Linked DNA regions of Homo sapiens: all the other regions are linked to region 2. The links come from fine-mapping of genetic effects on gene expression. A gene starts in region 2. Each other region holds a variant in brackets. All regions are shown on one strand. Distances are from middle to middle. Region 1 holds the start of LOC124903932 (a long non-coding RNA gene). Region 2 holds the start of ZNF286A (zinc finger protein 286A). Region 3 overlaps ZNF286A-TBC1D26 (ZNF286A-TBC1D26 readthrough (NMD candidate)).

Region 1 (10,355 bases), 410 kb after region 2:
TTAGGAAGTAGGAAGAATAAGCTAGCGGAGGCAGCAGAGTGGAAGGAGGAGAAATCACGTGGTAAGGGTTTGTAAATTAGGGGCTCCTTTCACGCACATCCAGAAGATGTCTTGGAGGTGCTGGGGACAATGGTGCCATCGGAGTGTCAAGGAGAGGAGCTGTTCTGGGAGACCACAGGAAGATGGGCAGTTCCTTTTAGACCAGGAGGTGTTAGCTGACAGTAGACCACGCTGTGAAAACGTTCAGCTGGTCCTTGATGAACACAAGCCACGTGAACTAAACCAACTCATACTCTCAGGGTTTGGGGGTGTCTTAGTCTGTTTGTGTTGTCTGAGACTGGGTAATTGATAAAGAAAGAGATTTATGTAGCTCACAGTTCTAAAGGCTGTAAGAAGCACGGTGCCAGTATCTGCTTCTGGTGAGGGCTTCAGGAAGCTTCCACTCATGGCAGAAGAGGAAGGGGAACCGGTGTGTCCCATGATGAGAGATGGAGCAAGAGAGAGAAAAGAAGATGCCAGGCTCTTTTCAACAAGCAATTCTCTTGGGAACTAAGAATGACACGTTACCCACTCCTGAGAGAATGGCACCAAGCCATTCATGAGGGATCCGTCCCTATGACCCAAACACCTCTCACCAGGCCCACCTCCAACAATGGGGATCAAATTTCAGCAGGAGACTTGGCCAGACCAAACAAACCATATCCAAACCACAGGAGGCGGGGAGCAAGGTTAAGGAATGTGTGCAAGGCGCCCCCAGTCACACTTGAAGTGAAGTGTGTACAGGCAGCACACATGCAGGAAAAGCAAGAAGGCAGAGAAGTTCCCAGCAGGAAAGTCAGAGGAGGTCCAGGGTAGCTAGTGGAGAGAGGGTACCAAGGTGGGTGTGCTGAGGGGCAACATTATATAAGGGAGGTGCGGGAGGCTGAAGATCAGAAATAGAGTTGAAGGACAAGAAGGAGGTCACTGATAACTTTTAATAGTTCTCTTTGGGGAGTGCAGTGTACCCAGATAACACAGGAATTTAAGGGAAAGAGGAGCACGTTCCATGGCAGCAGGGGCGGATCGGCAGTGAAAGGAAGGAGAGAAAAGCAGCAATCAGAGAGACAATGAAGTCAATGTGAGTTGCTTTGACACAGAGAAAGCTGTTCATGTGTGCAGGCTTGCAGAGGGCAAGAAAGTAAAGCATGTATAATACAGCATATATTATCTTCTAGTGATAGATGAAATACTTCATAATAACTTTGAAGTTATTTTTAAGGTAAGATTTCTCTCATTATCTTTAAAAAAACTTTTCATCCATTTTCACTTGATTATTATTCCAGAAGCAGTATTTTTAAACTATAGTAATTATGACTGGGATAGACAGACAGATCAATGAAATAGAAAGTCCAAAAATAGGCGCACATGTGTGTGTGGATCCAATAAAATCCACGGTTCATAACGATGAAGAAAAGGATGGATGACCTAATAACTGGCTTTTTGGAAAAAAAATTAGAGTGTAATTTCATTTGATATGCTAATATAAATTTCAGATGATCATGGACTTTAAAAAGTCATGAAAGTACTAAAAAGTAAATTTAATGTTAATCTAAGCATATCAAAAACATAGAATCCTAGCTCACAATTGTAGGCCATTCAGACCGAAGGAAATTTTAGGTGGCTCTTTCAGAAATCACCTGACGAAGAACTAAATAGAATATGGTGAGAAACTGTTCTGTACTCCCTGCATCCATCTGAACATTTAGAAGTGCAGTAAGAGTGTATTAAACTCAAAAGCTGGAAGGTAGCAGTGAATGGTTCCTAACACACTTTTTATTTGAATTGGGCTTTGGAATTTTTCAAATTCCATGGCATCCTTCAGTTACAGTTTTGAAGTATTGTGTACCCAACAACATGCCACTACTCTCTTCCTCTAGTAATTGAAGAAAATCATCAAATATCTGAAAGGAGTCAAATTCTTAGCAATTAAGTCATCTGCATCCAGCGTCCATCTCTAACAATCCTCATGAATTGCCAAATACATTGCTAAGATATTCCACGTGCCACATGGACAAATCACTTGATATTATTTAAAGGGCCTTAACTGATATTATCAGTGCCACGTAGTAATAATGCCTTAAAAAACACACGCACACACTCATAGCTGGCTGTGGCAGCTCACGCCGGTAATACCAGCACTTTGGGAGGCCAAGGTGAGTGGATCACTTGAGCCCAGGAGCTCAAGACCAGCCTGAGCAACAAAGTGAGATCCCCATCTCTACAGTAAATAAACAAACAACAACAACAAAAACCTCACAACCACTCATTCCTACTTTGAAATCCTCATTTGGGTACCCCTTATCCTAACAGTCTGTGTGGAAAATAAATTTTATATTCTGCCAATACCTTCACACTATGCACTCAGAAGGTATATATACACCAAATAGGCATTGCTTCGTTTTAATTTCCAATCTGAATGTACTTCCTTCATTATTGCATCACAATTAATATGTATAATGTTGAATACCAAGTAGTGAGAAGACTGACATTGAAAAACAACTTTTTTTTTTTTGAGATGGAGTCTCGTTCTGTCATCAGGCTGGAGTGCAGTGGCATGATCTCGGCTCACTGCAACCTTCACCTCCCGGGTTCAAGTGATTCTCCTGCCTCAGCCTCCCAAGTAACTGGGATTACAGGTACGTGCCACCACGCCAGGCTAATTTTTTGTATTTTTAGTAGAGACAGGGTTTCACCTTGTTAGCCACGATGGTCTCGATCTCCTGACCTCGTGATATGCACGCCTTGACCTCCCAAAGTGCTGGGATTACAGGCATGAGCCACTGCGCCCGGCCGAGAAGCAACTTCTTTTATTGTCACGGCATCTCCTTTCCTCAGTGCCTACGTAGCTAGTTTCCATGTATCCTGATTTCAACACACATTTTCCAGTCCTTACCATGACTCACACCATAATTGTTAACTAAAACAAACACCTCGTCTTTTGTAACGTAAGTTTCCAACAGGAAAACACCACCAGCCATTTTTTTCCTTGAATATATATCACTCTTAGTCCAAGAGTGAGTTCCAAATTTGCTATATCAGTGGTTTAATCCAACCATAAACCAAAAGCAAACACAAGTATGTGACGTTGCTCATTGTATGCTGTGCATACGCACTTTATATGCTATTAATACTCTGCCTCATCCAACTTATGTCTAATGGTTAAAGAGTTCTGTCAGTCACTACGTATCACTCAGAGTGGACTAAGTTATGCTGCAGTAACAAATGACCTCCAAATCTTACTCAGACAAGTTCATACCTAGCACAGATCTCCTGAAGGCTCTGCTGCTTGCCTTCCACACTCTGGGACCCAGGCTGGCGGAGCCGCCATTACTGGAACAGTGCCAAGTTGTCATGGCGGCAAGGGGAGAGACAGCATGGTACATGGCAGACCAACTCTTCAAGCTGTGTTTCCACTCTCATTTCCTGAAGCCGGTTATAGGGTCATGTGTCACTTTATGGGCAGCAGAGAGATGCAATCTCTTGATGAGCTAGAGAAACGTAGTGAACAGCACAAATGATTTCCACAAGCGTATGCTGTTTCCTTTCTGAGCAGAAATGTTCAAAAACTAATGAAACTGGTTTTACAAACTTTGGGGGATTATTTTGACCTAAACCTGTGTGTGCTTTGGAGAAGGATTTGAGTGTTGACTGTGTGCCTCTTTAGATAGAAATATTAAGTTTAAAACTAGAAAAGCAATATTTTGTGTTTGTTTTAGGATTTTAAAAATCTCAGTGGGCATATTAAAAAAGGCCACTGTTGAAAAATGATGCAAAATCTTCACATCTCTGTTCAACAATGTTTCTAAACAGATAAATCATTGCAGAGTAGAAGCAGATTCCTTAGTCCAGGGAAATCCAATTTAAAAATTTAACTCTGCAGTTGACGTTATTTGTAGGAAACATATTTGCCTGTCCTTGTTCTAGAATATGCAGATTTATAGTCTATATTTGAACTAGACTGGAGTCATCTCTCTTTTTTATATTTATGATGTTATTTTGAGCAGCAATATTTATATTACTATTTTCATTACAGTTTTATTCTTTAACAGACCAGTTTTGAATCAGTGATTCTTTTTTGTAAACTGAGAATTTAACCCAACAGAATAGTGAAAACAAAATACAGAAACTTTTTTTTAAAAAGAAATTATTTGCAAAGAAAATAAAACTGTGCTAAATGAATTAAGGGAGACTTTATTGTAGAGAATGCATATATTTGACAAAAAGTTGATTTTAAAATACATCAATTTTTTTCTACAATGTTCAACAGAAAATGTTTTCCCACTGGGCAAGTGGGTCAGGAAGGCATATACCAGGAAATTAAATTTAGAATATCTCTGAGTAAAGTATTTAGAGGGGAAGTAGTTATGTGTCCCAGAGATCCTGTATTGTGAAAAAATATAAGCAAAACTCCACATCCCTAGAGATAGATCATGCATAGGACCTTACCTTTTTGATTCTCAGAAAATGAGGTATAATCTGAAAAGGTGAAAACTTGAAATCTCCGGAGAACCAGATTTTTTTCTCTGTGCAATCAATGTCCCTCTCAATACCCCTAACTACATTTTCCCACTTTGTGCAAGAGCTACCTCAATCATTTAATTGACCTTCCTTCCCTTTTAACTTTCTATCTATTTCTATGGCACCAATAGAGGTTTGGAGGCCATTCTCTCTTTCTGCTGCTGGAATATATACAAAACTCTCATTAAGCAACAGAGAAACACTTTCACTTTATCACTCAGGATTGCGATAACTGGCCTGCTTCAGGAAGCCACTGTAAACACCAGAAAAGGTGGGTGGCACATGAGCACTGGCTCTGACTCCATGGCCCTGTTTGCCTGTAGAACCAATGAATGTCAAGTTTTGATGAGTTGCACAGTCCCTTCTGCTGCCCGAGAGAGGACCCTGGAGGAGGAAAGAGAGGGAAAGGCTGCATATGTTCTCTTCACCATTCCTCTAGATGGGAGAGAGAGCAAAATCTACTCTTCTATGGGCCAAAATATGAAAAGACAGAGAAAAGTATTTCTTCTAGTAGACACTAGTGTTAGTGACTCAGAAGACAGTGGCAGCAGTGAACAGCTTGGACGTGGTGCTGGGCTTACATCCAAGGGGCAGCA[A/G]CTCCACAGTCAACAAAAACTGGATAAGTTGGACGACATGGAAATTAGCAATTCTTGTGCATTAAGGGGCATGACAGACTGAAAAGCAACCCAGGGAGTGGGAGAAAATATCTACAAGTCATATATCTGATCAGAGGTTAATATCAAGAATCTATAGAGAACTCCTACAACTCAACAACAACAAAAAACAGAAACAACCCAATTAAAAAGATCCAGGAAAGTTGTGGAGGACATGGCTGGGAAGGAATACTGGGGCATATGGTGGAGTAATTCAAACTTGAATGACCAGTCCATGAAGGGGCATTAAAGGATGGAGCTGTGCTTTGGGAAGACACTTTGAGCTGTTCTGGGTGGGATCTATGGAAAAAGGGAGGGCTCAGGGGGGCAGGAGAGTTAGGTATGGGTGAGATATGGTTTGGCAGAAATTGCGTTTGGCTAAGAGACAGACTGCAGAGAAATAGAATTCTTATGAATAAAGAGGAAACCAGGAACTCCAAGCTGCCCTGGAAGGATGATCTATTTTTGGGGAGGGGAAGCCAGACTTTCTTTGAAATTTTCCTTCCTTTGGAGATCCTCTATTAATTGTTAAGGTCCCACCACACTTTCTGTGTAGCAGAGTGTTGAGTTGAATTGTGTCCCACAAAATTCATATGTTGAAGTCCTAACCCTCAGTACCTTGGAATGTGACTGTATTTGGAGATAGGACTTTTAAAGAGGCAATTAAAGGAAACTGAGGTCATATGGGTGGGACCTAATCCAGTATGATGATTGTCCTTATAAGACCAGGAGCTAGGACAGACACATGCAGCGGGAAGGCCACATGAAGGCACAGGGAGGAGACGACCATCTGCAGGCCAGGGAGAGAGGCCCAGAGGAAACCAGCCCTGCTGACTCCTTGATCTTGAACTCTAGCCTCCGGAATTGTGAGAAAACAAATTTCTGTTGTTTGTGCCACCCAATTTGTGGTACTTCGTTATGTCAGCCCTAGCAAACTCATACAGGGTGTATAAAAAATGACCCTTTTGATGTCTTATAGCATGGTTGTGGGAAGACATTTAAAATAGGCTTTTGGGTCAGACACAGTGGCTCATGCCTATTATCTCAGCACTTTGGGAGGCCAAGGTGGCTTGAGCCTAGGAGTTTGAGACCAGCTTGGGCAACATAGCGAGATTCTGTCTCTACCAAAAATTTAAAAATTAGCCTGAAGTGTTGGTACGCACCTGTAGTCCCGGCTATTTGGGATGCTGAAGAAGGAGGATCATTTGAGCCCAAGAGTTTGAGGCTGCAATGAGCTATGATCATGCCATTGCACTTCAGCCTGGGTGACAGAGTGAGACCCTGTCTCTAAAAAATAAAATAAAATAAAATAAAATAAAATAAAATAAAATAAAACAGAATAAAATAAAATAGGTTTTTGTAAAAGTTGAGAGACAGCAACAGGGAACCAAACTCACAAACTAAGATAAAACTAACAACCCATCTCAGGCATAAAAGGGTCTGTCCAGGGATGGAAGCCTTTGGGTCCCCCTACCCCTCTATGCCTACAAGGGGGAAGCCCTACAGTATGGCCGTGGGTATTTTGCTATGGAATCTTATGCTCACATGTGCTGAGACCAGAGCTGGCATGCACAACCACAAGTGGCCTGTGCCTGGAATTTGTGACCAAGAAAGGAGGCATAGAACCCAGGTGTCACAACCACAGAATTCTCCAGAAACCGGTCTGTACATCCAGGGACTTCAAATGGCCATAGTGTCCCCATGTGCATGCTGGGAGGGCTGTGCTGAGCCGAAGTATCTGTAATCATTTGGGTGAGAACTGTGTTTTGATGTCCCTGTGCTCCGGCCCCTGCGTGCAGCCAAACAGGCAGGTGCCATCCCATCATCTGCACGTAGAGAGTAGCGATGGTGAGAAAAATTATAGGAATGCTTTCTGGCAAAGACTAATCCTCCAAGATGCTCCAGGAAAATAGTTTTGGATGCAGGAATTGCCAGGTCTGGATAAACATAGTTCAGTCCCTCAGATGTTTGATGTTTTGAACATGACTAAATGTTCGGCTGCATGGCCCTTCATCTGAAGCCTTCAAATAGTTCACATTAAATCCTGATCCTGTCCCAGACAGCGGCCAGTGAAGAGTTATCAGATCCACTGCTCTAGTAACCAAACACCTTGGAGGGTTTATCCTTCAGAGATAAAAGTGAACCAGTGAGAAAGTTAAAGTTTCATACTGAGCTGCTGGAACCACACTGTGCTTACACAGGAGGGTCCAATTCCAGTCTTCTTTGCTAATAAAGTTTCTTTGTACTGGGATCCTCATTTTCCTGATGTTTAAAACAGAAAAAAAGTCATGCCTCAGTATCTGCAGGGATTGATTCTAGGACCTCCTGTGTATACCAAAATCTGAAGATGCTCAAGTCCCTTATATAAAAGGGTATAGTATTCACATACAACCTATACACATCCTCCAGTACACTTTAAATCACCTTTAGATGACTCAAAATACCCAGTGAAATGTAAATGCTATGTAAATAGTTGTTATCCTATATTTTTATTTGTATTACTTATTGTTGTATTGGTTTATTTTATTTTATTTCTTCCTGAACATTTTAATCTCTAGTTGGTTTAATCTGTGGATGTGGAACCCATTGATATGGTGGAGGGCCAAGTGTGATAATAGAAATGTGTCTTGGCATGCATGGCCTCTAAGTATTTTATCAGTTTGAAAAGCAAAAACGGATTGACTTTGCCACAGTAAAGCTCTGGAAGTCCCTGCACATAATAAGCATTCAGGAAGCCTCAGGGGTGATGGTGGTAAAATGATAATGTCCTGATAGCTCTTCCAAGAGGTGTTTATCCCTGCACTAGGGATTCTTGAGACATTCTATGATACTACTATGCTGCACTCTTTCTTGTTTTCTAGTCTTGAAGTCTAAGTGGCAGAATGACACTAGATGAGCCATTAGGTTAGAAATTTAAAACGTTTGAAGCAACATAAACAAGTGAGTTGTCAAACAGCTGAAAATGATGTTTTAACAGCCAAAATGTGACAAATATAAACACAGGGTCATCAAAGTACAGGCATTCTAGTAATACATAGAGGTTTGGAGATTTGTACGTTTTTCTTATTGTGCTTTTATTCATTCATTCAGCAAATACCTGTTTTATGCCAGAGATTGTAATTAGGCAGAGGAATAAAAAATTGTAAGACAAGTCCCAGCCTTCGATGGGCTCCATATATATAGCCTAGAAGGAGGAGTCCAGTAAAGAAATAAATGAAGAAATAAATTCAATAAAGTATAATTAGATCCATAACAACTCGATTTGGTATTCATGATGTCAGCAGTCCGTGAGCAGTCATGCAGGTCTGTGACGTGCAGTAATTTTAATTCTGCTGAGGCACAGAATGAACTGATGAGCTGAGAATAATAAGCAGAAACAAGGCACCAAACAAAAAGAGACCAGCTGACTTCTCGTTGCCCGTGTCTCAGAGATGCATGGTTCTCCATGGTAGCCACCAGCACAGCTGCCTTCTTGTGATAAAATACTTTCTCAGTATTGTCTGGGAGAAACAATCTTGATACAAAAGCCAGATGCTATTGATGATGGAAATGAGGAAAAATTAAATTCTTCTAAGGAAGCAATTGCTCTTATCCAGAAAACAGAAGCATTTTGAGAGGAAGAATAATGCTGTATTAGACACCACCATGGAAAATCATGAAGTGCTCAGAATGTAGCCCTCATGAATAGGATAAGCTTTATTCCATGTACCTTGTGCAATGGTAGGTGAAATATGTCAGGAGAAGATTCATAAAGGAGATGGTCTTGGATCAGATTCTTGGAAGATAAGTCACGTGCTAACCCTCTGACTAAGGTCAAGTGTTAATAAACTGCCTGACCTGTTTGGAAAATACAGGTTGAAAAACCAAAGGGACTTGTGTTTCTGGCCAAGATGGAGTGATAAGGACTGGACTGACTCTCTGGCCAGAAACAACAGCAAAACAAACAAACAAATATCAGACAAAATGTACAGAACAACGGTTTTCAAGACACTGGACATTGAACAACAAAGAACAGTGATCTCTGAGAGACAAGAAATGAATGAGATGAATCCTATAATAGCCTCAGCTCACACCACTGAGTTTCCAGTTCATGACACAAGGAGGAGAAATCCAGGAAGAGCCCAGTGAATTCCCTGAGTTGAGGAGAAAGAACTGAGTTTGGGCAGTCTAAGGATGCTAGGGGTCATAGGACTAAAGTACCAAAGAGGGGAGAGAGAGAGAGAGAGAGACCTTGAAAACTCAATAGAGTACTGATTGGTCCACTTGTGTAAGAACAAAAACAATGTGAGACCCAGGGAAAGGACCAGTCAAAAGAATTTGAGGGAACAATACTTTGTGTTCACACAAGGGTGGAAGTAATACCTGTTTCCACCATCCAAACTGGAAAAACTCATAATTAAGTAGGCTAGTCAGAAAGGTCTTGATTCAGTAGTGGGCAATAATTAGCTCTAGACCTGCCTAACAAATCTCAAAAGCAAAATCAGAAAGGATCAAACTGTTTCCAAGTAATTTAACTGTACCATAAAACAAAGCTCAAAAATATTTGTAGGAAGACAAAAATATCCAGCACCCAACAAGGTGAAATTCACACTGTCTAGCATCTGATCAATATAACCAGATGTGCCAAGAAATAGGAAAAATGACCCACAATGAGAAGAAAATCAATCAAGTGAAACAAACCCATAGCTTACACAGATGTCAGAATTAGCAGACAAGCACATTAAAGTGGTTATTATAACTGAATTCAAGTTGAAAAAGTTAGGTAGAGATGTGAAATGTATGTAACCAGAAATCAAACCTATAGAAATAAAAATGACAACATCTGAGATGAAAAATACATGGGATGAGATTAATGACAGATTAGACCTTGCAGAAGAAAAGGTAAGTGAACTAGAAGACATAGCAATGAAAATTATCCCAAGTGAAACACACAGAAAATAAAATAATTTTATAAAAATGAGGCCAGGTGCCATGGCTCCCAGCATTTTGGGAGGCCGAGGTGTGGGGATTACCTGAGGACAGGAGTTTGAGACCAGCCTGGTCAACTTGGTGAAACTCCGTCTCCACTAAAAATACAAAAATTAGCAGGGTGTGGTGGTGCACACCTGTGATCCCAGCTACTCGGGAGGTTGAGGAGGGAGGACT
Region 2 (10,355 bases):
CACGGGGGCGCCGGCGGGCCCAGCGGCAGGGCCGAAGCCGGGCGGGCCCTGGCCAGTGGCACTGCAGCTTCCTCCACCGACCCTGGGGCCCCAGGGGGCCTGGGAGGGGCTGAGGGTCCCATGGCCAAGAAGCATGCTGGCGAGCGCGATAAGAAGCTGGCGGCCAAGAAAAAGACGGACAAGAAGCGGGCGCTGCGGCGGCTGTAGTGGGCTCTCTTCCTCCTTCCACCGTGACCCCAACCTCTCCTGTCCCCTCCCTCCAACTCTGTCTCTAAGTTATTTAAATTATGGCTGGGGTCGGGGAGGGTACAGGGGGCACTGGGACCTGGATTTGTTTTTCTAAATAAAGTTGGAAAAGCAAAAAAAAAAAAATAATAATAATAATAAGAGAATTATTCCCTTAAGATAAAATAATATGTAAAAATCACTAAGTAGCCCCTAAGTAGAAAAGACATTATGAGGAAAAATGAACCTTAGCCTAGAATCTGCATATACATAACTAAATCCACATTCAGTGGAGATTAAGTGCCCAAAAATTAGAAGAAAAAGCCAGAACAACAAAAATGCAAACCATTGCACAAACAGCAGGAAAACTACAAAAGAGGAAACAATAAAGCACAGGAAACAGAATTATAAAAATCACATGGCAATAAAAGTTTGAAACACATGTATTATATGTGAATGAGCAAATTTCCCTTATAAAAAGGTTTTTTTAAAAAGCCACATCCTATATACAGAATAGGCCATCCAAACAAAATATTATTGCTGGGTTGGGTACTGGTAGGTAGATGGAAGGAAATATAGTATACCATATGTCTGAATACAGTAGTGCAAGTACAACAAAAAATGTGAAAAAATATACATAGTAGAGAGAGGCAGGGACTGAATTTGAGGGGGAAGTAGCATTACCTTTACATTTCTGTATGTCTGTGTTGTTCACTTTATTACATTGAAGAACTAAAACTTTTAATATTTTTAAAAATCTAACAAATCAAAGGTAAAAAATAGCCCAGGCAAATTCTAACAAGAAAAAAAGCTCCAATATTGCATTTTTAAAATCTAATAAAATGCACAAAGAACAAAGAGAGTTTTAAAAATTTTCCATAATAGGTTCAATCACCTTGATGCTGTTAACAGTGTTGAATCTGATATCAAAGTATTGAAATATATATTCACGCTTCTGGTACCAGTGCCCTAATTTTCCCCTAGCTACTATGCCTGGCCACTTTGAATCTGTGTAGCTCAGGTAGTACTGACGCCATCTCTGATTCATGGGTGGGATGTTTGTGCGTGCACGCGCATGTGTATGTGCGTGTGTGTGTAGGTATATTCTATAAAGAATTACACTTAAATTTGGCCAATATCTCATCCAGGAATGGGCCTAATACCCCATTAGAGTCAATCCCAGCACTTCTGCAAGAATGACTAGAAGAGAATCTGCCCTTTTTCTCTGGCCTTCAACACAGGAAGATGTAAGCCTAAACTCGTTAGAGGCCAACACTAGGAGAAAAACTTGTTTGGCCATAAAACCCATGGAGAGAAAAGGTCAGTAAAATGAAGAATTAGGTTTTAACATTCTTGTTTGAGCCCTATATGTAGCCAGACCTAGATTTTTCAGTTTGTTAGTCAATAGTTACTTCTTTTCACTTAGACCCATTTGAATTGACTTTATCAGCTGCAACTTAAAGCTTCTTGACTAATAAAGTCTTCAAGACTAATGTAAGACAGTTGAGAAGCCAATGGAGACAGGCAAGTACATAAAGGAAGTGACTTTTACAAACACTATGAACGTGCAGTATCTACTTTTTACACCTTGGATTACAGAAGCAAAGAGAAAGGCTGATTGAGGAATCTCTGGGTTGTGGTATGCCACACACATCATGGAAAGCTCCTTTTTTCCTCCTCAACTTCTTTTTTTTTTTTTTTTTGAGACAGTTTCACTCTCACCCAGGCTGGAGTGCAGTAGCCCTATCTGGGCTCACTGCAACCTCTGCCTCCTGGGTTCAAGTGATTCTCATGCCTCAGTCTCCGGAGTAGCTGGGATTACAAGTGCGCACCACCAAGCCCAGCTAATTTTTGTATTTTAAGTAAAGACGAGGTTTCACCATGTTGGTCAGGCTGGTCTTGAACTCCTGACCTCAGGTGATCTGCCCGCCTCAGCCTCTCAAAGTGCTGGGATTACAGGCATGAGCCACCGTGCCCAGCCCTAACTTCTTTTAATAAAAGTTTCAAACATACAAAAGTTGAAAGATGAATGCAATAATCACTGATATAGTACAATCACCGCCTAAATTCAAAAATTCTTTTTTTTTTTTTTTGAGACAGAGTTTCCCTCATTGCCCAGGCTGGAATGCAGTGGTGCGATCTCGGATTACTGCAACCTCCACCTCCTAGGTTCAAGTGATTCTCCTGCCCCAGCCTCCAGACTAGCTGGGACTACAGGTGCGTGCCACCATGCCTGGCTAATTTTTTGTGTTTTTAGTAGAGACGGGGTTTCACCGTGTTAGCAAGGATGGTCTCAATCTCCTCACCTAGTCATCTACCTGCCTTGGCCTCCCAAAGTGCTGGAATTACAGGCATGAGCCACCACGCCCAGCCAAACATTCGTAATATTTGTCATATTTACCTTTTGGGAGAGAGGGGCCAACAATATAAAAGTAAGTTGCAGACATGATCATACCTTAGCTTTCATCATCTCAGAGGGCTGGATTCTAACTGTAACTCTTTAAATTACGCCTTCATAGGCTTTCCTTTTCCAGTATTTCTTTGAACTATGTGAGTATTTATTATTTTTACAATCACTTCAGCATTTAAGTGCTTTCTTAGATTGCCACTTAAGGTCACATACATGCTGTTTCCTCTAGAGAAACAAGTTTTAAGAGGTATGTACCACATTATATTTAAAATAGTTTCTCACATTACCAAGCACAGAAATGAGCATAGGAGGCTAAGAAAGGGAAATGCTGCTTACCTATCTGTTGAGGGACAATAAACACTAAATAGGGAAGAAATCCATCCAGTGTTATAAGTAGAAAACATTTTCTTCTGAGTCCATTAGTCTCCTGACTAGTCTCTTAGATTTAGAACTCAGCTCTGCAGATGGGCTTTAGTGGATAAAGAAACTCCACATCACAAAGAAGGGAGTGCATCTGTACTCTAAGAAACAAGGTGTAATTCCAATAATCAGCACTCACTCACCTGGGATCTGGCCGTGAGGCGCAGAGCAGCCACTTCTCCCTCTTCTGTGCTCTTCTCTTGGAAATGGGGAGAATCCTGGGAAGACAGAGCTAACGACAAGAAAGCAGTAATGATGAGACCTAGGCTTAACGTGCCACTCAGATTTAAAGTCTAAAAACCACTTCAACATACTATATGTGCTGCCTACAAACACTGAGACTGAAGGTACCCCCAAAACAACCGACCTCCTCCCAGGACCCTCTTCCCGGGATATGCGGGAATATTGCTACTCTGGGCTCGAATTCAGTTGCTATAATCATAACACATTCTGTAAGATGGCATCCTCTGATCTAGAAATTAGAATATGTCAGTAAATTTCCCAGTTTAATCTATACTCGTTGGTTCTCACTCTGAAAGCTTATTTATAATGTAGATTGCTGGACCCCACCTCAAAGTAATAAGCATTAGTTGAGCCTGGGGTACAATCCAGAAATCTAACAACCACCCCAGGGGGAATTCTGGTGTAGGAGGTCACAGCACAACCTTCATGAAACTGGTCAGGTAGAATGGAAGTCAGTCATTAACTACTACGCCTGTTTTCTCCTATGTAAAACAAAACATTTTTGACAACCAAAGAGGTGAATTCTTGCCATAGAAGTTAACATTTCACTCACATTTTGGGGGTAGCTTTGAAGGGTCCACTGTGTGCCCAGCTGCCATGGAAAGGGCGGTGCTCCCATACCAAGCCCTTCAGTCTCACTTAAAAAGCCCATCCATCCCCAAGACAATGGAGACAGCCAGCCAAGAGCCACCTCCCCTGAGCCAACCGTTTTCCCTTCAGGAGCAGGAATTTCGTCCTTCCACGCTACAAGTTCAACACGTCCGCAATTCTCACCTCCTTTCTCAGGCATTTCAGCCAAATCTGTCTCCATGATCACCACCTCCTCCTTGTTCTGGAGATTCTGCTCTTCACCCCAATTCAGATCTCCCTGGCCAGACGAGTTAGAAGCCCCCCGGGCCTCGTGGTCCCACTTCCTGCCTTCCCTCCTGGGCTCTGATGAAAGGCCTGGGTTAGATCGGGTCTCTTTCTCACCGTGGAGTCTGCCTCAGTCCTACGGCGCTGGAGCCTGGAAGCCCGGGGACAGCATCCCTGAGGCTGGGTCCTCAGATGTCTGTCCCTACCGCTTGAAGCTGTCCCTGGGGGAACCGGGCACCTGGAAGAGGTGACGCTGGGGCATCAGGAGTTTGGACAAATTCTGCCGCGCTCGGGGCACTGGCCCAGAACCCCGCGACCACCCCGCCCGTGGCACAACCGCGTCCCCCGAGGAGAGGATCAGGCCAGAGTGAGAAGGGACAGGGCTCATGGTCTGCCCTCGAGGCCCCTTTAACAAACGCGCACTCTAGCCCCGACTCGGCACAGAACGACCCGGGGAACCACCGCCGAGGCCGAGCCGAGACGAGCGACATCACCACAAGCAACTCACCTCCCATCCCGGGCCTCACAAAGGGGACGAACTTCTTTGGCCAGCTCGGAGTCGCGCATGCGTAAGAAGGAGCGGAGCCAGGCGTGCTGCCCTCATCCCGCCCGGAACTACAATTCCCAGAAGCGCCTTGGCATCGCCAGACTCCGGTTCTCCGCAGGTGGGAGCACCCGTGGTGCGGCTGGGAGAATCGGACGATCGAAGAGCTCCGTCCGTCTCGCGAGAGTATGAGGCAGCATCTCCTGTGTCTAATCCTCAGAGCAAGGGAGGGAGGGAGCAGCGGAGACGCGGACCGGAGTCAGGGTCCGTCCCCGCGCTTTGTCTGCACAAGTTCCTGCGGCACAGTGCTTAGGGCTGCTGAGTTCAACCCAAATTACTCCGGTGTAAGATACGTTAAAATACATAGCTTTTATCCATATTTTGTGCGCCCAGAACTCATCCTTTTGCTTTCAAAACATACGAAGGATGTTTTTAGGAAGAGCAGGTCCCTCTTTGTACACTCAGTCAGATGTTCCTGTATCCACAGACTACTTGTAATCCTAAAATTCATGTATTTAAAATGAGTTGAAAAGATTGAACCTGTTGTAACAAATTTAAGCAATAGGTTCTTTGCAGACATAAGCATTAGTTTAAACATATCATAAAAGGTGGTTCTTTCAAGGGAGAGTTATTCAGTCTCTCCAATTCTGTTAGAGGACTAACCCATCCACCTCCAGCTTCGTGTCTAGACTGCCCTCCTTTTCTCAGTGAATGACATTACTGCCCACTCACTCATTTGCACAAACCAGAGCCTGAATATTCTTAACTCTTTGATCTCACCATCTATTTATCACCAAGTCCTATTCATTGTATCTTAAATAACTCAATTGTTTCCATCTTTCTCTATTCTCAGTAGCATTACCTTAGTTGGGGCCACCACCATTTCACTAGGATTGCCGTTGCAGCCTGGTAACTGGATTCCCTAACTAAGGTTTTCTCTACCACCAATCTGTTCTCCACACTTTCTGGCTAGTGCTCTTTCTAAAACAAGAATATGCTATTACTTTAGTGCTTCAAACCGTTCAGTGGCTTTTAGAAACTTCAAGGAAAGATGATTTCCAGCTCCCAGAAGGGATTTGTAACTCCCATTATCTCAGCCACCTGGTAGTTACACCTTTGTGCAATCCCCTCTTGTGTATGGACTGGGACTTGCTTCTAACCAATACAGTGCAATAAAGGTGACATAAAAGTCTAACGTGTGTCTTGCTAGGAGACTCCTCTCTTGCTGGCTTTGATGAAGTGGTGGTGATGTTGGGGAGGCCCATATGACAAGGAACTGAGGATGGCCTCCAGCCAATAGCCTGCAAGAACCGAAGGCCCTTGGTCCCACAACCTGCAAGGAGCTGAACCCTTTGGACAGCTCTGTGTGCTTGGAAGTGAATCATTGTTTGTAGAGTCTTCCCATGAGAACCCTGTCTTGCCTGACATCTTGATAGCTGGCTGCAAAGGACTCACTTAAGCTGTGCTCAGACTCTCACCCATAGAAACTATGAGATAATAAACATGTGCTATTTTGGACCACTGAGTATGTGGTCATATTGTTATGCAGGAAAATTTAACTAATTCCACTTTCTAACATAAAACAGGATCTTCTTTGTCAAAATCCAATCTGGGAATTGTCTGGAAGAGGGAAATTGTTGGATTGAGCAACTATTGAAAAGTTTATTTGAAACCCACAGGAAGACAAATGGCTACAGTCGGTCCTAGGAGGTGTGTGGCCTGTACACATACTTTTAAAAAGCTATCCTAAGAATGATAAAGGAGGAGACAGGAAATATCAAGCAAGAACTTGTCATAAAAATAAAAACAACGAAACTGTGTGTCAAAATATGATGGTTAATACTAGATTGGATAGCAGAATGTGTAAAATTGAAAAGTGAATATCTACAATATTCTAGTGAAGCTACAATATCAGGCTAGGGAACTCTACACTTCCAGAAGATACCAGGAAGGGAGAAAAAGTTGAAAAATACGAAAGAAATATTAAGCAGTATGGAAGCTGACTAGACTTTATGAGAATCCATAAGGAAAGAAAAACAGAGAGGAGGAACTATTTTAAGAAATAATCAAGAATTATGGAAAAATAAAAAATTAAAGACTTCATATTGAAATTATTGATAGAGAGTCAAACAAAATTATGAAAAGACACCACATATTACGGTGAAATCTAACGAAGAAATTCTAAAGCCTACCAGAAACAAAACATAGATCACCTACAAAAGAAAACAATCACAATTAAAAAAAAAATCCTCAGTGTTAAAAACAGTGCCTGGAATAGTACCAGGTAGTGCCAGATCTCCATCAGCCTGGACAGTGGGAACTAACTGGTGCATTCCCCACACTTACCTTCCAGTGGGTTGCTGTTGAGAGAACCTGAAAAAACCTAAACCTCAGCCGGGTGCAGTGGCTCATGCCTGTAATCCCAGCACTTTGGGAGGCTGAGGCGGGCGGATCACAAGGTCAGGAGATCGAGACCATCCTGGCTAACACGGTGAAACCCCGTCTCTACTAAAAATACAAAATATTAGCCGGGTGTGGTGGCAGGCGCCTGTAGTCCCAGCTACTCAGGAGGCTGAGGCAGGAGAGTGGCGTGAACCTGGGAGGTAGAGCTTGCAGTGAGCTGAGATCGCGCCACTGCACTCCAGCCTGGGGACAGAGTGAGACCCCGTCTCAAAAAAAAAAACAAAAAAAAAACCCTACACCTCTACAGCAGGTCGAATTCATGACCTGAAGCTGAATACTTCCAGCATATTTTTCCCAGTAGATAGGAATAAAGTATCTTTGCAGTGCTCTGTTCCCTCCGTCTCCCTAAACATCTGACACCCTAAAAGCCATCCAGCAGCTATGGACCCTGAGCGACACGTTGATTTGTGTTGTCACCTGACCAAGCCTAAAGACCTCCAGCTCAGTCCCCGACCTTCATCCCACCCCCCAGATGATAAAATTCAGACCTCTCTCCTGAAAGGCAGAGGTTAAACATTCAGGACTGTTTCTGGCCGAGGACTTCTTCCAATTAAAACCCCCACCGTGGGCTGTCTCCCCTCATTTCATTTTTCTAAAGGGGCAGAGGCCTCTTTTAGAAAATAATAAAATTCAATGTGTGTGATTTACTTTTCTGATCTCTTTGAGAAATACAGGAATATAAAAGTATGTTCTTAATTCCAGAACACTCTTTTTGCATAAATACCTCATTGGGCAGCTTTCTAAGTGTGATTTTCCTGAGTCTCCCTTCGTTGGATCTGCCGGAAGACGAGTCAGGGAACCTTTAGTGAGGGTACTTCTTCCTATTTTTCTTCTGTTTTTGGAGGCATACACATTATGCATAACCAAAACAATGGCTCAATTGTGTTTAACTTTGTATTTTGATTGTTGAGAAGAAAAAAAGGTATCGACGTGAAAAAAAAAACAGTGCCTGGCATTTTGTGGCTTCTCAACAAATAATAATTACATAAATAAATCTGATTTGTCAATAGCAGGACTGATTACAAGAAGAAAATGTAATATTGATAAATAATATTTGTACATATTTATGGGGTACATGTGATATTTTGATACATGCAAAATACATGTAATAATCAAGTCAGGGCATTTGGGATATTCATCACCTTCAATATTTATCATTTCTTTGTGTTGGGGAAATTTGAAATGTTCTTTTCTAGTGATTTTAAAATATACGATATATTGTTGTTAACTGTGTTATTAAAGATTCTAACTTATTCTTTCTATCTAACTGTGTGTTTGTACCTGTTAATCAACCCCTTTTCATCACCCTCCACACCCTTCTCAGCCTCTGGTAATCATCATTCTATTCTCTACCTCCATAAGATGAACTTTATTGGCTGCCACATATGACTGAGAACATGCAGTACTTGTCTTTTTATGCCTGGCTTATTTCACTTAACATGATGACCTTCAGTTACATCCATCTTGCTGCAAATGATAGTATTTCATTTTTTATTATGGCCAAATAGTGTTGCATTATGTATATATATCACATTTTCTTTATCCAGTCATCCATTGATGGACACTTAAGTTGCTATTGTGAATATGGCTGCAATAAACATGGAAGTGCAGGTATCCCTGTGATATACTCATTTCCTTTCCTTTGGATAAACACTCAGTCATGGGATTGCTGAATCATATGGTAGTTCTATTTTCAGTTTTTAGGCCGGGTGTGGTGGCTCACGCCTATAATCCCAGCATTTTGGGAGGTTAAGGTGGGTGGATCACTTGAGGTCACGAGTTCAAGACCAGCCTGGCCAATATGGTGAAACTCCATCTCTACTAAAAATACAAAAAAGAAAACATTGGCCAGGTGCAGTGGCTCACATAATCCCAGCACTTTGGGAGGCTGAGGTGGGTGGATCACTTAAGGTCAGGAGTTTAAGATCAGCCTGACCAACGTGGCAAAACCCTGTCTCTACTAAAAATACAAAAATTAGCCAGGCATGGTGGCACATGCCTGTAATCCCAGCTACTCGGGAGGCTGAGGCAGGAGAATTGCTTGAACCCGGGAGGCAGAGGTTGCAGTGAGCCCGGATTGTGCCACTGCACTCCAGCCTGGGTGACAGAGTGAGACTCTGTCTCAAAATAATAATAATGATAATAAACAAACAAAAAACAGAACAAAAAAAACTATCTGGGCATAGTGGCATGCACCTGTAATCGCAGCTACTCAGGAGGCTGAGGCAGGAGAATCGCTTGAACCTGGGAGGGGGAGGCTGCAGAGAGCCAAGATCATGCCACTGCACTCCAGCCTGGGAGATAGAGCGAGACTCCATCTCAAAAGAAAAAAAAAGGCTGGGTGTGGTGGCTCACGCCTGTAATCCCAGCACTTTGGGAGGCCGAGGTAGGCGGATTACCTGAGGTCAAGAGTTTGAGACCAGCCTGGCCAACATGGTGAAACCCCATCTCTACTAAAAATACAAAAATTAGCCGGGCGTGGTGGCACACACCTGTAATCCCAGCTACTCGGGAGGCTGAGGCAGGAGAATTGCTTGAGCCCGGGAGGCGGAGGTTGCAGTGAGCTGAGATCATGCCACTGCACTCCATCCTGGCCAACAGAGTGAGACTCTGTCTCCAAAAAAAAAAAAAAGAAAAGAAAAGAAAGAAAAAAAATAGTTTTGCTGTATATAGTACCCTGGGCCGATCAGCATAAAAAAATACACGTTCACAACCATAAAAAATGGATGGGAGGTGGGGAAGAAACAGGTGTGGGTTTTAATAAATTAGGTACAAGCACCAGGAGAATAAAAATAGGATGTAAAATATTCAAAGTGACTGGCCGGTGCATGGCTCACGCCTGTAATCCCAGCACTTTGGGAGGCCAAGGCAGGTGTATCACCTGAGGTTGGGAGTTTGAGACCAGCCTGACCAACATGCAGAAACCCCGTCTCTACTAAAAATGCAAAACTAGCCAGGCATGGTGGTGCATGCCTGTAATCCCAGCTACTTGGAAGGCTGAGATAGGAGAATCACTTGAACCTGGGAGGCAGAGGTTGCAGTGAGCCAAGATCATGCCACTGCACTCCAGCCTGGGCAACAGAGTGAGACTCCATCTCCAAGAAAAAAAAAAAAAAAGAAAAATGAAAAGAAGTGATTATTCCATGGAAACTGAGAGAAGAGGAATAGAAGAAACAGAAAGTATGGAAAAGAGAA
Region 3 (10,355 bases), 26 kb before region 2:
GGGTCGTCTAGGGTCATGGACCTGGCCACAGAGCAGAAACTGGGTCAACAGGAGTGCACACACGCACACAGGTGCACACTCACACACTGGAATAAAACGAATTTCGTAGCAAGTGGTCACGTGCGCGTGGGAGCGCGCGCACACACACACACACACACACACACACCACACTTGTTGCTGATCTGCTGACTTATCTCACTGCCATGAAACAGCAGCTAAGCCTGTAATTGCTCTGCCTTTCCTTGGATTTTTCCTTTAGTTTCTCTGACTGCTGGGTTACTGGCCTGTGTTTAGCTTCATGAACATGGGTTTCACTTTATTTTTATGGGGTTCCAGCTCTTGCTCATGGAATCCCTCCCTGCCTGTTCTGCAGTCTTCCCTTGTTTACTGCCTGTGGACTTCAAGTATCAGACACAGAGAAAGATTTGTAGATACTGTTTACTCAGCCCCCACAATTTCCATAGCAGGTCTCTTAATTCCCATCACCTCCAGGGAGGGTCATTGCTGGGATCCTAGGAATCAAGTGCCTTGTCTTGATGGCCACAGTGGTAACCATAATAGTCAGGTTTTCCCTCTGTGCAATTCTGGAACATAAAAATCTTCTCTGGTAACAAGACTACAGAAAGCAATGAAAGCAACACTAAACTGGGAGTTTGCTGGCCTGTGTTTCTAAGAAATTTAATGTTTTTACATAAATAATGAAGAAGAAACGACTTTTCTAAAGTTCCTGTCATTTATGCCATGGATTGGACTCTTCTGTGAAAGCAGTTTTATTGATGGATGTGGATAATTAGCTTAACTTCAAGTAAAAGATTAGAGAGCAAATTGTAAACATAACTGTGCTTTTTTACACTCAAATGACATTAATCAGACAGTTTTGGATCTCTAGAAATATATATTAGAACATGTAAGTTCTATATTGAAATACGCAAGTTTGGAATCCTTCAGGTGGCTTATTTTTCATCAACTAGAAATAATACTAAAATTGCAAAGATTTATTATGATTTATATTATTTGTCCTAATGGAAAAAGGAATTCAAATATGTTTATTAAAGTATAATATACACAGGAATCCTATTATTCTACTACTCAGTGATTTATCACAAAGAGGACACATGCTTGGAGCTACCACACAGTCCAAGAAAATGAAATAAAAATAACAATCTGGAAATCCCTCTCCTGAAGGTCTGCTCCCTAACCACTGCCCACCTGTCTTGTCAAAGCAAAGAGTCACCTGGTTTTTAGCAGCCCCAATTAGTGTTGTCTGTTTCATAAATGGAAGCATGGAGGGCCATTCAGTAGGAATGGTTTTGTGTGTGGCTTCTTTGGCCCAGCATTACATTTGTGACACTCCTTCAAGTGGTTTCATGAAGCAGTTCATTTTTTTTTTTTTTTTTTGAGATGGAGTTTCGCTCTGTCGGCCAGGCTGGAGTGCAGTGATGCGATCTCGGCTCACTGCAAGCTCTGCCTCCCAGGTTCACACCATTCTCCTGCCTCAGCCTCCCGAGTAGCTGGGACTTACAGGCGCTTGCCACCATGCCCAGGTAATTTTTTTGTATTTGTAGCAGAGATGAGGTTTCACTGTGTTAGCCAGGATGGTCTCAATCTCCTGACCTAGTGATCCATCCGCCTCAGCCTCCCAAAGTGCTGGGATTACAGGCGTGAGCCACCGTGCCCGGCCCAAGCAGTTCATTTCTTTTCCCTGCTCGGTGGTGCTCTGCATGAATATGGCACATCTATCAATTCTACTGTTGATGGACATTGGTTTGTTTCCATTTTGGGACTACTAGCAATAAAGCCACTATGAACATTCTTGTTAATTTCTTTTGGTACACATGTATAGATATTTTAGTTAAGTACAGCCCTACAAATAAAATAGCTTGGTCATGGTAACTGCATATGTTCAAATGCAACGCATGTCACTAAAAATGTCAGCTAGGAGGAAAAGCTCAAGAGCTCTATTGTACAACATGTTGACTACAGTTAATAACAATGTGGTAATACTTGAAATTTTTGAGACAGCAGATTTTAAATGTTCTCACCACAAAAAAAAAAGATAAGTATCTGAGGTAACTGATATGCTAGGTAGCTTGATTTAGCCATTCTACAATGTCTGTCTGTTGCTATACATATATATACACAGATTTAGCTATTCTACAATGTGTGTGTGTGTGTGTGTATGTAAAATGTGGTATAGCATAAATACATACAATTTATCAATTAAATTTTAATTCCAAAGATTTTTTTGACTAATATATAACCCAACCACAAGTTTGAGAGTTCTAATTAGATGTCCTTTCCAACACCTGATTTTGTCAGTCTTCCTTTTACATATTCTGGTTAGTGGATAATGTTATTTCGTTTTCATTTATTTTGGTCTTCTGATTATTAAAAGGCCTGATACCACTTTCATAAATGTTTATTGAAAATGTATATAATCAGGCTGGGCACGGTGGCTCATGCTTGTAATCCCAGTACTTTGGGAGGCCGAGGTGGGCGGATCTCTTGAGGTCCGGAGTTCGAGACCAGCCTGGCTAACATGATGAAACCCCGTCTCTATTAAAAATACAAAAAAAAATTAGCTCGCCATGGTGGCAGGCGCCTGTAATCCCAGCTACTCGGGAGGTTGAGGTGGGAGAATTGCTGGAAACCGGGAGGCAGATGTTGCAGTGAGCCAAGAACGTGCCACTGCACTCCAGCGCGGGGGACAAGAGCGAAACTCGCATGGTGGTGCGTACGCCTGTAATCCCAGCTACCCAGGAGGCTGAGGCAGGAGAATCGCTTGAACCCGGTAGGCAGGTTGCAGTGAGCCGAGATTGCGCCATTGCACTCCAGCCTGTGCTTCAAGAGCGAAACTCCGTCTCAAAAAAACAACAAAAAAAGAAAATGTATATAATCATATTTTCAGGGGTCTATGCAATTTTTTATACTTTTTCCAATGTGGTTATCAATCTTTCTAAATGATCTTCGAGAAGTTTTTAAAAATAAATTCTTGACATAAATTTTTGGGATTTTGTCAGTTAAAGGTGGAAATATCTTCTCTTTAAGAAAGAGCTTGGCTGGGCGTGGTGGCTCACGCCTGTAATCCCAGCATTTTGGGAGGCCGAGGCGGGCTGATCACGAGGTCAGATCGAGACCATCGTGGCAAACACGGTGAAACTCCATCTCTACTAAAAACTACAAAAAAAAATTAGCCGGGCATGGTGGCGGGCGCCTGTAGACCCAGCTACAGGCTGAGACAGGAGGCAGGAGAGGAGGCTGAGACAGGAGAATGACGTGAGCCCGGGAGGCGGAGCTTGCAGTGAGCGGAGATCGCACTCCAGCCTGGGCGACAGAGCCAGACTCAGTCTCAAAAAAAAAAAAAAAAAGAAAGAAAGAAAGAAAAGGAAAAAACAAAGAGCTTATTAGGCCGGGCACGGTGGCTCACGCCTATAATCCTAGCACTTTGGGAGGCCGAGGCCGGCGGATCACGAGGGCAGGAGATTGAGACCATCCTGGCTAACATGGTGAAACTCTGTCTCTGCTAAAAATACAAAAAATCAGCCGGGCGTGGTGGCAGGCGCCTGTAATCGCAGCTACTAGGGAGGCTGGGGCAGGAGAATCGCTTGAACCCAGGAGTTGGAGGTTGCACTGAGCCGAGATGGTGCCACTGCACTCCAGCCTGGACTACAGAGCAAGACTCCGTCTCAAAAAAAAAAAAATAAATAAAATAAAATAAAAAGAGCTTATTAATGGATAATCATTGGAGATGTTAAGTTTTAGGTAAGATAGAAAAAAGGGTCTTTTAACATAGTTGTATTATATATATTTTTGCCTTGTATTTTCATGTTACAGAATGGGTCTAACTTTGGGTCAATATATGTGTTCACTTAATTTTTTTCTAAATTTGGAAGTAACCTGAAATTTACACAAAGACTGCAATAGAATTACAAAGGATAGCCAGGTTCCTCTTAGACTGACACACAGTTAACGTTTAATCCTGCTTGTTTTATCATTTGCTCTTTCTATACACAAATTTTTCTTGAATCATTTCAATTTCATACATTACTCTTCTTTACCTCTAAATACTTCAATATGCATTTCTCAATAATGAGGATATTATTAATACTTTACACAACCATGATACAGTTATCAACTGCAGTAAATTTAACATCAATACATTACTTTTATCTATTCTGTTGCTTGTATTCCAGTTTTGAAAAATTGAACCAATAATGTCTTTAGGAGATTTTCTCTCACACAAGACCTAGTCAAAGATCCTGTATTGTATTTGGTTGTCATGATGCTTTAGTCTCTTTTAATTTGGAAGTTATTCAGCTTTTCCTTGTCTTATGTGACATTAATATTTTTGAAGAATGCAGTCCTTTTAATAGTCCTCATTTTGGAGTTTGTCAAATATTTCCTCATGATTAGATTCCCATTATGCATTCCCAGCCAGAATAGTACACACATTATGCTGTGTCCTTCTCATGGTATCACATCTGAGGCACAGAATGGCCATGTGCTGCTTACTCATATTAATTTTGATCATGTAATCAAAGTTTTTGCCAGTTCTTCCACTATATAATTATTTTTTGCCTTGCAATTGCTAATCATAACAAGCAATCTCTGGAAAAGATACTTCAATTCTATGCAAATATCCTGTTCCTCATCAAAATTTCCCCTTAGATTTAGCATCCATTGATTCTTGCTTGAATCAGTCTTTACTGTTATGGCTACAAAATGATAGTTTTCCAGCTCCAACATTCCCTTCGCATTTACCCATTGGCATAGGATATTCTGCGGTAAGCAAGTGTCCTCTGT[TA/A]TCGCTCATTTATTTACTTATTATCAATGTGAACTCATGGACTACTACTTCTTCAATGGTTTACAATTCATCATTTTCTTGTTTTGCTGCTCAAATTGTTCCGGATTTAGTCAGTGAGGGCTACTTCCTGTGTCTTTGTGACCTACCCTCATCATTTTTTTGAGTGCTACTTTTTTTTTTTTCTGGAATAAGATGTTCCAGGATCTTCTTGGAGTTTCCTTCCCTCAGACCTGCAATCAGCCATTTTTCTGAGGAGCCTTAGTTCCTTTTAGCAGAGAACGGTATCAGAAACCAAGATCTGGGCTCATTGCAACTGAGATGTCATTGCTTTTAGCCCGTTTCAGTAGACAGAGCTAGGAAATGTGTGTGCTAAGAAGGTATAAAAGGGATGTGTGGCTGCAGGAGGTCATTTTATGTGTGTTTGTGAGTTTTGCTCATCTGCTAAGTTGCCTGTCTAATGTAGAGAGTTCTGATTATCTACATCCCAGTTAATTTCTTTGGTTAGCAAATTTGTGATTAATATGAGTGGCTGGGAGGCTGTATGAAAACAATAGCGGCAACGAAACTGTGCAGAAAAGTTAACATAGCAAGTCCGAGCCTGCTATCTTTAGAAAGACTTGCCTACGAGGTTGGCCACAGGCGGGCATCTGGGAAGGATAACTTTGGGATCGTTCCCGCTAATTCCAGAATTAAAGTGGATCACTGCTCCTAAACTGTCTGTAAAAACAATGAAGCTTATGCTGAACACCTGCTTTCCTTCTGGAAGTCTGGAGTTTTGGTACATGCTAGACAGAGACTGCCTATGTGACTAGCACCCAGTACAAACCTTAGGATTTGAATCTCTACTGAGCTTCCCTGATAGATCACATTTCACACATGCTGTCACAACTCCTTGCTGTGGGAAATGAGCAAGTCTTGTGTGACTTCGCTGGGAGGGGACTCGGGGAAGCTTGTTCCTTGTTTCCTCCAGACCTTGCCGCCCCATGAGCCTTTTCTCTTTACTGGTTTTGCTGTGTGTCCTTTTACTATAATAAACCACAGCCAAGAAAATGACAACATGCTGAGTCCTGGGAATCCTTCTAGTGAATCATTGAACCTGGGGGTGGTCTTGGGGATCCCTAAACATGTAGAAAGAAAATGTTATGTTTTTGTTTATCAAAAGAAAACAGGACTATTTTTCTCTTAGAGTGAAATGTGTGGTTGTTGCAGAATGCAAAAGATAGTTAAAGCATAAAACTGGAGAGGATGCTGTAAGTTTTGGAAGGTTTGGGGGAAAGTGAACTTTACTTGTGCTTTATAATAGCTGCGAATTCTGAAAAGAAGAAATAAAATGTATTAAAATTTTGACAAAAGTTGGCTTGATTTTGATGAGTTCATTAAAATCTATAAATCTTTAATTCAAAATATTATATTTAAAAAGATTAAACTTCGGTTATCTTTGCTTAAATGATAGTTTGTTCAACAAGAGAAAGGGAAAGATCATTCTTTACCTTCTGTGTAATCTGCCCAATAGTAGAAATTGTCTCTCATCAGAACTACAGTTTTGTGCTTTGTTCTGTGTTATGCTTTTCATTTTATATATATATATATATATATATATATATATATATATATATATATATATATGAACAAAGCCAAAACAGACCCTTATCTTGGAGCTTATGATATGGCATTCATAAACAGGAAAATGTAAGAAATACTTGGGTTTGTTTGGTATGTCCTATAGTTATTAATTAGTTCAAAATGATTGTAAGAGCTGCTCTGTTTATGGGAAGAGGTGTCAGACCAAAGAGAAGGGAAACCTTCCCTAGTTTAATTTTGTATAGATATGTTACTAAAACAAATGTTTCAGAAACTGTATACTTACTTATGTTTGGAAGGCCCTGGAGATGTCCACACTGTATATAATGCATTCTTACTCTCAGGGGAACACTGATCAACTCCTCTTTGAAATAATCATGTCTTATACTCCAATAAAGGATTTTACTCTCCTTCATTCTGATAGTTATTATAATAAATTATAAAGCGTTAATTATAAATTCAGATGGAATTAAATGGTGCTGAGATAGCAAGAGAATGAGCTGATGACATCTTCTGAATATCTGAATCCAGTCATATCTGAAGCCAGATCTCACCATGGGTTTTTAAAAATTATAGTCCTGGGCCGGGCGTGGTGGCTCACGCCTGTAATCCCAGCACTTTGGGAGGCTTAGGCGGGCGGATCACGAAGTCAGGAGATCGAGACCATCCTGGCTAGCACGGTGAAACCCCATCTCTACTAAAAATGCAAAAAATCAGCCAGGCGTGGTGGCGGGCGCCTGTAGTCACAGTTACTTGGGAGGCTGAGGCAGGAGAATAGCATGAACCTGGGAGGTGGAGCTTGCAGTGAGCCAAGATCGCGCCACTGCACTCCAGCCTGGGTGACAGAGCGAGACTCTGTCTCAAAAAAAAAAAAAAAAAAAAAATTACAGTCCTGGATAACCCAGCAGGTTTGAGTCACTACAACATGAGATGCATAGGTCACGAGACTGGGAATTGAATCAACCATACATAAAACTATGTTTTTGATATGGCAAAAGTAATATTTATGGTGGTGGCTGCCCTATACCATCTCGGGTCCCTAAGTGACTACTGATGAGCAAAGATTCCCTGCCAGGCCACAAAGGACAGGTAGCACAAGTTAGCATTAAGAAATGGCACCCTGGTGAGAGGTCCATGCTTTTTGTATACTAGAGCCTGGTCTCAAAGAATAGAAAATTATCATCAAAATATAACTCAGCAATGTGCAACAAAGCCCTTTCACATATATAATTTCACATAACCCTCACAGAAACTCTATGAAATCAATGTTGGAAATACTTTCTTAGTTTTTTTTTTTTTTTTTTTTTTTGAGATGGAGTCTCGCTGTGTCACCCAGTCTGGAGTGCAGTGGCACGATCTTGGCTCACTGCAAGCTCTGCCTCCCAGGTTCACGTCATTCTCCTGCCTCAGCCTCCCGAGTAGCTGGGACTACAGGCGCCCGCCACCATGCCTGGCTAATTTTTTTGTTATTTTTAGTAGAGACGGGGTTTCACCGTGTTGCCAGGATGGTCTCAATCTCCTGACCTCGTGATCTGTCCGCCTTGGCCTCCCAAAGTGCTGAGATTACAGGCATGAGCTACTGCACCCAACTTTCTTAGGTTTTAAACTTCTGTCAATGTTATCACTGTTTGATCTTTGAAAAACTGCTCTTGTGGGGGGGAATAGATGGGGAGCAGGAGGCCAGATAGTCTTATTCATGCTGAAGTTAACTTCCAATAGCAGTGTTTGTTTTACCTGCACAGCATCTTTGGATTTATTTGAGGGAAGCACCCTGTCCCCACCCACAGTGCAAGTTGCATCAATGGGATGGACTCCACCCTCTCTTCCTCCAGGGTTTTACACAGACTCAAGCCTGGTCGATGAGAGGACCCCATTTCCAGGGTGGTATTATAAAAGGTTCAGTGATCAGCACGACTCAAGCAAAGTGGAGAAGTAGCCTCAGGGATTTTGCTGGAGCTATTTGGAAAGAGGTACTTTCCTTGGAATTGTGAATGCCAAGAACCGTAATATAACTTCCAAGTGCCAGTAGGCTATTTGTCGCTGCAAGAGACTAAGAAAAGCACATCCAACAGAGAGGAAGCCAGAGCAGAGATGGAGGCGGACAGTCCTCGATCTATTAATAGCAAAGCATTTATCTCTAGTTTGACTCCATGGATTGCCCCAGATATGTGAACTTTGCTGACATGATGATTACGTGTTTCATGAATTGGTGGGAGTGGGAGGGAGGTGAAGCATGCACCTTTTTTGTATAGTTCACTCAATCTAAGGGATTTATAAACAGAGGTTACATCATGAAAAAAATAAAAAACAATTCAGTAAAAACATCTAATTTTTTGAGGTTTATAAGTGGAAACTACACAGTAGGACCAGATGCCACATTTTATATATATTACTACAGGGAATAGCCTTCTACCTTGTCAATGAAACTTATGGAGAGGGACAGCTCATATGGCTATGGGTCCCAAGACTGCCTAGTTGGGGCCCAGAAAGAATTACACAAGGAAGGGAAGAAAGCAGGCTTCCAACTTGAGTCATCTTCTGATAAACACATTTTTTTTTTTTGAGACAGAGTCTTGGTCTGTCATCAGGCTGGAGTGCAGTGACTCAATCTCGGCTCACTGCAACCTGCATCTCCTGGGTTCAAGCGATTCTCCTGCCTCAGCCTCCCTAGTAGCCACCACGCCCAGCTAATTTTTGTATGTTTAGTAGAGACAGGGTTTCACCATGTTGGCCAGGATGGTCTCGATCTCTTGACCTCATGATCCACCCGCCTCAGCCTCCCAAAGTGCTGGGATTACAGGCGTGAGCCACCGCGCCCAACCGATAAACACATATTTTTAAAAGTGAGAACACATCTAAGAAAATAAAAACTATGACAAATTTTCAATAGATAATTGATCTAGTTAATTGCCAATCAATTTGAATATTTAGTATTCTTACATTATCACTTTTATACTTTTGGGTGATATTACATTGTCTTCCCCCAAACCAGATATAATTGAAAAGTTACACAAAATAAGATTTTTATGACATTTTACCTAATTTTTTTTTTTTTTTTTTTTGAGATGGAGTTTCGCTCTTGTTGTCCAGGCTGGAGTGCAATGGCACTATCTTGGCTCACTGCAACCTCTGCCTCCCGGGTTCAAGTGATTCTCCTGACTCAGCCTCCCGAGTAGCTGGGATTACAGCCATGTGTCACCATGCCTGGCTAATTTTGTATTTTTAGTAGAGATGGGGTTTCTCCATGTTGGTCAGGCTGGTCTCGAGCTCCTGACCTCAGGTGATCTGCCTCCCTCAGCCTCCCAAAGTGCTGGGATTACAGGCTTGAACCACCGCACCTGGCCCATTTTGCCTAATTTTAACTGTGCTTTTTATACGAAGTTATTCCCTCCCTTTCACCCCAATTAGCCCTACTGAGTAGTGCCTATACCTGGCCTGGGGACTCAGTACTACTTGTTAGAAACTATCTTCCTCTACTCCTTAACCTTCTTGCAGATACTTGGGTTGCTGACGGTATCTCCCATCCCATCTCTCCAGAAGTTGTGAAGCCAGATGACCAGCTAGAAATGGGATTGGTATCCTGAATGATATGGAGATATTTTTTGGTTGGTCCTTCATTACATCTTAAAATATGCTTTAAAAAAGGAAGAATTTAAAAGCAATTTACAAAAGTTTCTGACAATACATATACAAACATCTTTATTGACAAGTGAGCCAATAAGGGCACATTTAGTTTACAGATAACCAAAAACATTTGAAATGCATAACATTAAAATTTCCAAGATTCATGTTGCAGTACAAACATGTGGCAGGTTAAACATCAGGCATAAAAAGGACAAATACTGAAACGCAAAGGGCCAGAGATCCCAAGTCGCTTAACACTATTTAAAATGTTATTCAACTGCAAACTTCAGCCTCTGGAACCATCCCAGATAGCTACTGGTTAAGTGATATGAAGTAGGAAAAAAGA

Evidence for each region.
Region 1: its variant is fine-mapped to the expression of ZNF286A in hippocampus (GTEx, PIP 0.95).
Region 3: its variant is fine-mapped to the expression of ZNF286A in whole blood (INTERVAL, PIP above 0.99).

Annotation. Positions count from the first base shown.
Region 1 is chr17:15,282,500-15,292,854 of GRCh38, reverse strand. It overlaps LOC124903932 (a long non-coding RNA gene), which reads right to left and starts at 3,592. Exons shown (of 3, transcript XR_007065634.1): 1 at 3,296-3,592. The variant A/G (reference allele first, on the strand shown) is at 5,154.
Region 2 is chr17:15,694,084-15,704,438 of GRCh38, reverse strand. ZNF286A (zinc finger protein 286A) reads right to left here and starts at 4,687. Exons shown (of 6, transcript NM_001130842.2): 1 at 4,662-4,687; 2 at 4,073-4,304; 3 at 3,199-3,287. The coding sequence starts at 4,109. It overlaps ZNF286A-TBC1D26 (ZNF286A-TBC1D26 readthrough (NMD candidate)), which reads right to left and starts at 4,687. Exons shown (of 23, transcript NR_171000.1): 1 at 4,662-4,687; 2 at 4,073-4,391; 3 at 3,199-3,287. It also overlaps the pseudogene UBE2SP1. RefSeq lists enhancers at 4,564-4,883, 4,894-4,943, 4,379-4,990.
Region 3 is chr17:15,720,490-15,730,844 of GRCh38, reverse strand. The region is part of intron 6 of ZNF286A-TBC1D26 (ZNF286A-TBC1D26 readthrough (NMD candidate)); the gene reads right to left. It overlaps ZNF286A (zinc finger protein 286A), which reads right to left. Exons shown (of 6, transcript NM_001130842.2): 6 at 10,058-10,355. Among named protein-coding and RNA genes, the nearest start is that of TBC1D26, 6.6 kb to the left of the region's middle. The variant TA/A (reference allele first, on the strand shown) is at 4,804.